2 separate regions of the Homo sapiens genome follow, and region 2 is linked to region 1. The links come from fine-mapping of genetic effects on gene expression. Tissue or cell type: skeletal muscle. Region 1 holds a variant in brackets; the other region holds the start of a gene. All regions are shown on one strand. Distances are between the middles of the regions.

Region 1 (5,228 bases):
ATTGCATCAAATTAAAAAGCTTCTTCACAGCAAAGGAGACAGTCAACAAAATGAAGAGGCAAGTTACAGAATGGAAGACAATATTTGCAAACTATGCATCTAAGGGGTTAATACCTAGACTATATAAGGAACTCAACAATTCAATAGCAAAAAAAAATCCCAAATAATATGATTTTTAAATGGGCAAAATAGACATTTCTCAAAAGAAGACATACAAATGGCCAACAGGTATATGAAAAAATGCTCAATATCACTAATCATCAGGGAAATGCAAATCAAAACCTCAATGAGATATCATCTCATCCCAGTTGGAATGGCTATTATCAAAAAGACAAAAATTAACAAACGCTCATGAGGATGCGGAGAAAGGAGAACTTTTATACTAGTGGGAACATAAATTAGTATCGCCATAATGAAAAACAGTATAGAGGTTTCTCAAAAAATTAAAAATAGAACTACCATATTATCCAGTAATCCCACTAGTGGGTATTTATGCAAAGGAAATGAAATCAGTATGTTGAAGAAATGTCTGCACTTCCATGTTTATTGCAGCTCTATTCACAGTAGCCAAGATATGGAATCAACCCAAGTGTCCATCAACAGATGAATGATAAAGATAATGTGGTATATTTACACAGTGGAATACTATTCAGCCATAAAAAAGAATGAATTCCTGTCATTTGCAGCAGCATAGATGAGCCTGGAGGACATTATACCACAGGATCTCACTCATATGTGGAATCTAAAAAAAAAAACAAAAACTGATCTCTTAGAAGTACAGAGTAGAATAATTGTTACCAGAGGTTGGGAAGCATAGGCAGGAGGGGTAGATGGGGTGAGGTGGGCCAACAAAGTTACAGATAGACAGGAGGAGTAAGTTCCAGTGTTCCCTTGCACAGTAGGGTGACTTTGGTTAACAATATTATTGTATTTTTCAAAATAGCTAGAAGAGAGGATTTTGAATGTTCTTACCACAAAGAAATGATAAATTTTTGAGATACTAATTGTCTTAATTTGATAATTACACACTATACATGTATCCATCACATTGTATTTCATAAGTATGTATAATTATTGTCAATTAAAAATAAAATAAAAAGAGAAAATTAAACTGAAAAGTTTTACAAGCAGAAAAATACTTCAGCTACGTTGAATAAATGAATAAATGAATAAAAAAATTAAGGGCCAGGCGCAGTGGCTCACGCCTGTAATCCCAGCACTTTGGGAGGCCGAGGTGGGTGGATTACCTGAGGTTGGGAGTTAGAGACCAGCCCGACCAACATGGAGAAATCTCGTCTCTACTAATAATACAAAAATTAGCCAGGAATGGTGGCACATGCCTGTAATCCCAGCTACTTGGGAGGCTGAGACACGAGAATCGCTTGAACCGGGGAGGGGGAGGTTGCAGTGAGCCGAGATCACACCATTGCACTCCAGCCTGGGCAACAAGAGCAAAACTCAGTCTCAAAAAAAAAAAAAAATTAAGTAACTTATTTCATAGTTGGTGTACTTTATTCAATAAAATAGTTAAAAGTCTGTTTTATCTGGCCTGGCGTGGTGGCTCACACCTGTAATTCCAGCACTTTGGGAGGCCAAGGAGGGTGGATCACCTGAGGTCAGGAGTTTGAGACCAGCCTGACCAACATGGAGAAACCCCGTCTCTACTAAAAATGCAAAAATTAGCCAGGCGCGATGGCACGCGCCTGTGATCCCAGCTACTTGGGAGACTGAGCAGGAGAATCATTTGATTCCAGGAGGCGGAGATTGCAGTGAGCCGAGGTCGTGCCACTGCACTCCAGCCTGGGCAACAGAGCGAGACTCCGTCTCAAAAAACAAAAACAAAAACAAAAAACCTTGTAATAATAAAGTTAGATTTCAATTTAAAATTGTGTGAGTGTTTTATTTTAAGGAGCTCATGAACAAAAATATTTGAGCTCTGCAGCTCAAAATAACACTTTGAAAATCAGTGACTAAACAATGACTCTTGATGCTACCAAACCTAAATCTTCCTTCTAATAATTATTTTCTAACGGCACCTTTACTAACTTAAAATAAAATGCATAGATAATACAACCTATCTCTACACATAATTTCAAAACATCAATAAAATTTCCTACCTGTAATATAGAAGAGAAATAATAGCCGGGCATAGTGGCAGGCGCCTGTAATCTCAGCTACTCTGGAGGCTGAGGCACAAGAATCCCTGGAACCCGGGAGGGGGAGGTTGCAGTGAGCCGAGATCACACCACTGCACTCCAGCCTGGGCAACAGAGTGAGACTCTATCTCAAAAAAAAAAAAAAAAAAAA[AC/C]GAGAGAAATAAAAGACAATAACTTATTTTAAAAACAGGTATTTCAATATGTAAATGGTTGGATATAACTGTGATAGAACACCAAAGGAGGCACTCAGCTAATTGTAATTAGATGCTTCCATCTAATTACAGGGAATGAATAAATTTTGATTTAAGAGATCTGAAGCCACTCCATAAAGAAAGATACTGGATTAAACACCAGTGTTAGGATAAGCAATAACAGAACAGATGTATTTATATATATATTTATATATAACACCCTACACAACTGTTTGGTGGAATATTTGAAGACTGTGCAGAACTCAGGATATCTAAATCATGCCGAATTCAGGACATTTATTTGACACCTAAAAGGTATTGCCAGTGTCAAGGTACAAGGATTAACAACCAAAACAAGGTGAAATTCCTTCTCTCATGGAATACATTCTTAATTATGTGGAACTGTCCTCACATTGCAGAGTCTAACATCTGCGGCCTCCAACTACTACAATGCCAGTAGCACCCACTCTCATCACTATAGCAACCAAGAAAATGCCCCTTCCCCTCCACCCCCTCCTGCCTGCCCCCCCACCCCCTCCCCCCACCCCCACTATCTCCTGCGCACCCACCACGGACCAAAATGCCCCTCCAGGAAAAGTACTACTGCTGTTCAGAGCCACTAGCCTGCAGGATGGAGAACAAGAATCTCAGTCCACCAGGTGGTCCTGGCTCCATCTTCCTCTCCAGCCTCCTCTGCAGCCACATATGCCTTCTAAACATATAGAGCTATCTATAGTCCTCTAAGTGGGTCATGTTATTCTATGCCCATGGGTTTTCTGTCAGCCTGAAATGTTTTCTCTTCCCTTGAGTTCTAATTAGTCTTTTTTGAGGCTTACTCAGGCCACTTTTCAATTTAATTTAATACATTTGTTTTAAAGTAGGTACTTTCTGCCCCATTAGATTGTGTATTCCATGAGAAGGAATTTTATCGTCCTTAATCTTTGTACCTTACATTGGCAGTATATTTTAGAATTCAAATAAATGTTTTCTCAATGGATATATGAGTATGGATGAAGGGATTCACTTTATTTTTATTTATTTGGTCATATTTTGAGACAGAGTCTCACTCTGTTACCCAGGCTGGAGTGCAGTGGCGCCATCTTGGCTCACTGCAACCTCCATCCCCCGAGACTCAATCAATCCTCCCACTTCAGCCTCCCAAATAGCTGGGACCACAGATGCACACCACCACGCCTGGTTGTTTTTTGTTTGTTTGTTTGTTTGTTTTGTATTTTTGGTAGAGATGGAGTTTCACCATGTTGCCCAGGCTGATCTCAAACTGCTGAGCTCAAGTGATCCACCCTCCTCATCCTCCCAAAGTGCTGGGATCACAGGTGTGAGCCACCGTGCCCAGCCAGGGATTCACTTTAAAAGAAAAAGAAATTCCTCTGAGACTGCAGGGAAAGGTGGAACAATGGATTCAGGGATAGATTTCGTGACGGATAAATTTAACTTATCTGTTGAGCATTGAGCTTGGTCAGGTATAAACATAACCTGCCACCCATCAGTCTTCATCTGTGCCATGACAAATGTCTCCTTTGTACCTCTTCACAACATCATGGTCAGAGTCCATAACACTCTGCTCCCTTTTGGTTATTTAAAGACTCAGTCCGATATGGCTTAAAACTCCAGTCTCAGGTCCAATGCAGAACTCATCTTAAGCCATGGCTTAAGGAACCTGCGGTGGAGAGAAGAATATGATCCCTTCTATTGATTCTGCTTCTCCTCTTCTAGTTCTCTGGAAGGTTCTCTAGAAGGGTTTTAGCTCCTTGGTGGTTGAGAACTAGGAGGAGGGCAGGGAGGAAAAGAACAACTCTCTTTTTATTTAACAAGGTAGTTATCACAAACCACTGTTTGCTGACAGACCATGCCAACCTGTTGTTTGGCAGATGTCAAAATGCTATCTTTCTTGCACATGGTGGCTCATGCCTGTAAGCCCAAGGCATTGGAAGGCTGAGGCAGGAGGATCACTTGAGCCCAGGAGTTTGAGACCAGCCTGGGCAACGTAGAGAGACCCTGTCTCTAAGAAAATTTTTTTTTAATTAGCCGAGTGTGGTGGCACATAACCTGCAGTCCCAGATACTCAGAAGGCTGAGGCAGGAGGATCACTTGTGCCCAAGAGATTCAGGCTGCAATAAGCCATGATCACAACACTATACCCCAGCCTAGGCAACAGACCCCATCTTAAAAAAAAAGATGCTGGCTCTCTTATGAGACAGTTATGTGAGTTCTTTAGAAGGTCCTACTGGGCTTCTCCACTGAGTTGTGCCCTAATGCAGAGAATCCTGATCCAAGCCATCTCTTTAACCCTCCTAACTTCTGTTCAGTGGCAGCCTTTTGGATGGGTTACCAGCATGATGGCTCAAGCCCGGCGATCTTCCTCAGTGTCCCTTTGATCACAGAAACTCACATACCCTTGCTAAGCCAAACAGAATGAATGCAGACTATTCCACTACTATCCCCTTACTCTGCCCTTCCTCCTTTCTCTAATTGCCTTTCCTCTTCTCAGACAGGTGCGGAGCTGAACAAATCCACTGTCTAAACAGATAGTTTAACCAAGGAATGAGAAATCAATCTCTCTTTCATGTAGATCTCTTTCATACTCCCTTGCTTACTTTAAGGGGGGAAAGGAGGGAAAAGTACTCCCTGCTAGGCTCATGACAGCCTCCCTTCAGTCATCTTTTATCTTATATAGCCTGGGAATGGAGGTGGGGTGGTAAGGTATGGGTTGGCTGGAAGTTGCAGGGCCACTTCTGCTACCTCTTTGTAAGCCCTGGAGAGGAGCTCTGATCCAATTATTAGCAACTCTCTCTAGAACGTGCAGTATTTAGTCCTCTTTGTCCCAGCTTTGGACCCTAGTCACCAATTCCAGGGCAATAGA
Region 2 (5,228 bases), 120 kb before region 1:
TCCTTGGATTGTTTGTATTAACTGGGATGACCAGGAGGAAGGAGACGACGGGCTGATCTGCAGGGCCTGTGGTTTCAGGTTGAGTTACCAACATCACCTCCTTAACTGGGGTGATAGAGGGCACCAGGAGACTATGCCTCAAGCTTTAACATTTGTTCCTTTGATTTCTCATCGCCTATTCTTCCTGTGTACACGCAGCCATAGGCCGCCTGCAGATTGTCTGAGTGGTTCCGCATTTTTGAACTGGAATAAAGGGCAATTGCTCAGCGGGTTCTCTCCTGCCCTGCATAGGCTTCCTTTTCCGTTTCCTGCTTTCGGGGAACCTCCTCCCCATCTTTGATTCATCTGTGAAATCAGCCTGGAGATGCCTGGGAAAGGGGCAGGGCTGCAGGGAGCAGGCTGGCAGGAATCCAGGAGGGGGATGGAGGGGGCTGGGCTAGGCAGGGCATGGGAATGGAGAAGGGGGTGGATTTGAAGGACACTGCAGAGAAAATCGACACTGCACGGCAGCCTAGGGTCAACTTTCCCAACCCAGAAACCTCAGGTGGGAGAAATCAGTGTGAATTTGCCTCCCTCTCTCTCTCACTCCCTCCTCCTGCAGCCCTCACAGAGAATCCACTGGGAAATAGAAAGGAAAGAGGACATTCTATTCCAGTGAGTCACCAGGTCCCTGAGTCTCTGGCCTGCTCTCCAGCCCCTCCCCACTGCCTCTCCTGGCCCCCAGTCCTTGTCTTCCCCCAATTCCCACCTCAGCTCACAGGCACAGGCTGAAGGCCTCAGAGCCAGGCTTCCTTCCTCGCTGTGGATCCCACTAGCTGTTCACAGAGCATATTCCAACGAGCCTCCAGGCTTCGGCACGTGGGCATCTCTGTTATCCACCCCATTGCAGAGAAGAGGAAAGTGAGACCCCAGCATTCTCCCAAGGCCATCCAACACCCTGCACCCCAGCACCACAGCCTCCACTTTAAAGAACTCCACTCGCTGCCTCCCAGCCCTCCCACCACACACAGGCACCAGCTGGGGCAGGATGGCTGAAAACGCAAGGCTTGGAGAAGAAACCCTGATCCAATTACCAAGGAAACTGGATTCAAGGCAGCCTGTGGATGGGGCTTCCTCGAGTTTCAGAGCTCAGTCTGCCCTGGACATGGGCTGAAAAAAGTACAGGGGCAGAGCCCTGGGGAGCCAGGCTCGCAGCGGCTCCAACCTTCCTCTCCCCGAGGACTGTCCCGCGGAAGGCCAGAGCCCTGCTGGTGCACACAGGACCTGCTGTGGGCAGGGTTTTGTGCAAACCCTGAATCCTCCCTCAGAGCTCAGACAGAGCCCACCCAATTCTTCCCACTCCACAACCAGCCCCTAAGAACCAGACAGAAGCCGCCTGCTCCAGCCACACGCTTCCCATCAGAGAGGGAGGTCCCAGGGCAATGAGGACACAGGCCAGGCAGCTCCCTCCCTCCCACTATGCTGCAATCAAGAGCCTCTTCACAAAAGCTTCTTAGTGGTTTTTATTTTCTTGGACTAAGGCACCGATGAATTGACTGTGCAGCCTCACACTGCCTTCTCCAAACCAAAAGGACATTCTCAGGGCCTCTCCCAGTGCCCTGCCCGCCAGAGGCCTGCAGCAGCCTGATGAGGAGGTCAAGACGGGCACTTCACATCCACTTGTGTGCTGGCTCTGCCAAGACACGCTTGTCATTTCTGGGGCTCACTGGGAGTCACTGTCACAAGACGGGCTGTCCAGCCCCGAAAGAGCACCCTTGCTCTCCACTCCCCAAACCCTTCAGCACTGCAGACCCAGTGTTCCTCCATTCTCTGCTGCCATAGTACACTGGGGCATGCCATGCAAATGCAGCTGGAGCAAGCCCCAGTCTATTGTTCCCCTCGTTCACCCCAGAGATGCATCCTTCCACATGGAAACATGGGGTCCACTTGTCCTGGGAACAGATGGGAGGGCAGGGGCAGCTGCTGTCCACAGGCACCGGCGACAGCAGCCTCAGCGAGCGTGGCGGGGATGGTGGCGGTGGGGGTGGTGGTGGTGGTGGAGGTGGTGAGGGGTGTGGCGGGGGTGGTGGTGGTGGTGGAGGCCCACATTCGGCACATGAGATACGTGGCCAGGATGACGGTGATGGTGAAAGATTCCCAGGTGGCCCCGCCGCCGGAAGGGCCAAGGCTGGGCCCGGCGGACTCGGTTTCCCCCTGCAGCTGTACGGTTCCTCTCCACGTCACAGTCCTGCCGTCCGTGGAAAAGGCAGGTGGCCAGCAGCAGCAGCAGCAGCAGGACCGCCACAGCAGCACCTGTGATCCATCCCACGAGGGCTGTGCTCCCCAGGAGGCCCAGCATCTGGGAGCCGGACAGTCCCTCTCTGCCCAGCAGCTCCTCACTCCTTTCTCCCCTTCAGCAGCCTCCGCTCAGCCCTCTCAGTCACTGAACTTTGTTGTCTCTGCTGCGGGCTGGAGAGCAGCCAGGGAATGTGGGCGAAGCCTGTTTGGACTTGCAACTGCTGGCCAAGGGTGAGGCCAGGCCGCTGTTAACTCTGAGGAGGCCTGGCAGGGAGGCCAGGTGGAGACAGAGGAGCTGTCAGGCTGGATCTGGTTGAGGGAGGAGCCCTGAGTCTAGAGGAAAGAAACCCTCCTGCTGCCTGGCTCAGTGACCTTCCCTCTCCGCACTTCAGTCTCCTCTCGTAGAGACTGTGTAGAACAGAGATGAACAACACGGGCTTTGGAGCCACGCCACTCACTTGCTCTGAGATTGTGCACAAGTTACTTAACCTCTCTGTCCTGTTTCCTCTTCTGTAAAATGGCTGATAACGGTTCCTTCCTCAGTAGGGTGTTCCGAGGACTAAAGGAGTTGAGATGCGTAAAGCAGCAACACCAGCTCCCGTCATGTTTGCAACTGATATTACTGCAATGGACTCCATGGCTCAGGAGACACTGACATCTGAGAGTCTGTGATTCCCTGTCCTGCAGCCTGCAGAGCCCTCCGGGGCTGAGTCAGGCTCTGTCAGATGAGCCATCCCGAGCTCAATGAGCTTGAGAAGCTCAGGGAGGCACCACAGGCAGATTTTGCCATCCAGGGAGGTCCTCCATCCGGCCTGTTCTGGGAGGCAGGAGGGTCTGGGTGTCCTCCCAAGCTTGCTGGGAGGCAAGAAGGAGGCCACTGAGCTCAGAGAGGGCAGGCACAGCCCAGCCTCCTGGTTCCCAGTTCAACAGTCTCAACTGGCCATAAATGGCATGCTCCTTGCTCTGTCACACCCTCCCTGCCCAGCAGTGATGAGTGCCATTCCTGCCTAGTGGAGCATTTACAGAGCGGCAGGATCTGAGCAGTACTGACTGTCCCTCCAAGCCCACCCGCCAGGCCCAAATCCCCTCTGTTCCTCCTGGGAGGCACCGTCCCATCCTGCTGACAGACCTCAGCAACAGGTGCTCACTCTCTCTCTGGGCAACCCTTTCTGCTGTGGGCATGCTGGGCTGTTCTCCAAGCTCTTCCTCACATGCAGTGGGGCTCCCCAAAGCCCCAGCTCTGTGTCTGGCTCTGCAGGGTCCCTCCAGGCTGAGTCCCCAGCCCCTCCCTCCAGGCTCATCTCCCTACCGCCTGGAGGAATGTCTGCAGACACCGCAAGGCTGGTTCTCTGAGTTCTGGCAGCACCTCCACCCTGTGATGTTGGGCAAACCCCTTGCCCTGATCCAGCCTGTCTCCTCTGCAGAACTCCCGGAGCAAGAGGTGACCTCCAGGGACCCTTCCCCCTCTGACCTCAGTCTGAGGTGAGTTCTCTTAGGGAGGCCTCAAACCCTTAATGAAAACCCTCACCAGATGAAAAGGCTAAACATTCCCTTCAACCAAACTGGGCTCAGGGGGCAGCAGGTCTAATGAATCCTGGCACTTCTTTGGCCCTTGGGGGAGCTACTTGAACTTTTAATGATGCTGGAGTAAGAACTCCTCCTGCAGACTCCTGGGGCCCTGGGAGCCCGGCTGCCTTCCCTAGGGAAGTTAAGGAGGGAAGTCTGTTGTGAGGAGGAGGAGGAGGAAGGCAAACAGGGGATTTTCGTCCTCAGAACTTCTCCAGGAAGACTCCCACCCCACACCAGCCGCTGGCGGCGGGGCAGGACCTTACAACTATGAACTTGAAGAACTTCAGTCAGCTCAAACGGCCCCTTGGAATCACCCAGACTCAGCCTTCACTGACAGATGGAGAAACTGAAGCCAGAGAAGGGAAACACTTGCCTAAGTTCTCCCAGCCTCGTGCGCTAATCTATACAGCAGGTACTCAACAGAGCACCATCCCTGCAGTGAGGGAGCCGTCCAGAGTGACAGCCTGAGATCAGCAGGGCCTTCCACAGAGACAGCGGGAAGATGAGGTGGAGATGTGAATAAACCTGGAGGGCGCAGGGGTTGGGAGTGCCCCCTCACACATACACATACACACGACATCTGTTTCCTTAGGTGCAGGTTCACTCTCCATCTGGGTAGTAGGATCCCAAAGTGAACATTTGTTTAGATGCTTTGGGCACTCCTGGGGGCAGTGAGGGACAGCCATTGAGAATACAGTCCTCCATGACTTAACCCATTTATGCCTAAGGTTGCAATTTTTTGAATTTTTGCAATCAGACCTTGGCAATGACCTTGATCAGTATGATAAAAATAACTCCCACATGCTTAGTGTTCCAATAATGGAACACTAGGCATAAATGTTAAGAAGTGACACAGCCAGGTGCAGTAGCCTGTAATCACAGCATTTTGGGAGGCTAAGAGGGGTGGATCATTTGAGCCCAGGAGTTCAAAACCAGCCTGGGCAACATGGCGAAACCCTGCCTCTATAAAAAATACAAAAGATTAGCTGAGCATGGTGGCACATGTCTATAATCCCAGCTATTCAGGAGGCTGAGGCAGGAGGGTTGCTTGAGCCTGGGAAGTTGAGACTGCAGTGGACTGAGATCACACCATTGTGCTCCAGCCTGGGCAACACAGCAAGACCCAGTCTCAAAAAAAAAAAAAAAAAAAAAGAAGTGACAGAGACCTTCTTGGAGGCTTGACTGTATACTGTACATGAGGGTTTGCAAGACTGATAACTTTAAGGACACTGTGGCTGTGTTTCCGGATCCCCCGCTTCAGAAAAGCTTGTCATTGTATTTCTTCCTCAGGGTTGGGACTTCCTAGCCAAGGAATGGGAGTTCTAGACCACACAGCTGATGGGTAAGCTTTTTGAAACTCATATTATTTAGCTTCGTGCCCA

Evidence for each region. PIP is the estimated chance that this variant, and not a neighbour inherited with it, causes the effect.
Region 2: it holds the start of HRCT1, and the variant in region 1 is fine-mapped to the expression of HRCT1 in skeletal muscle (FUSION, PIP 0.95).

What each region holds. Positions count from the first base shown.
Region 1 is chr9:35,779,064-35,784,291 of GRCh38, reverse strand. It overlaps a transcript of RGP1 not described here. Among named protein-coding and RNA genes, the nearest start is that of NPR2, 9.9 kb to the left of the region's middle. The variant AC/C (reference allele first, on the strand shown) is at 2,308.
Region 2 is chr9:35,903,398-35,908,625 of GRCh38, reverse strand. HRCT1 (histidine rich carboxyl terminus 1) reads right to left here and starts at 2,424. Exons shown (of 1, transcript NM_001039792.2): 1 at 1,490-2,424. The coding sequence starts at 2,338. The coding sequence ends at 1,991. LOC124902149 (a long non-coding RNA gene) reads left to right here and starts at 2,956. Exons shown (of 3, transcript XR_007061471.1): 1 at 2,956-4,258; 2 at 5,137-5,188. RefSeq lists an enhancer at 2,877-3,758.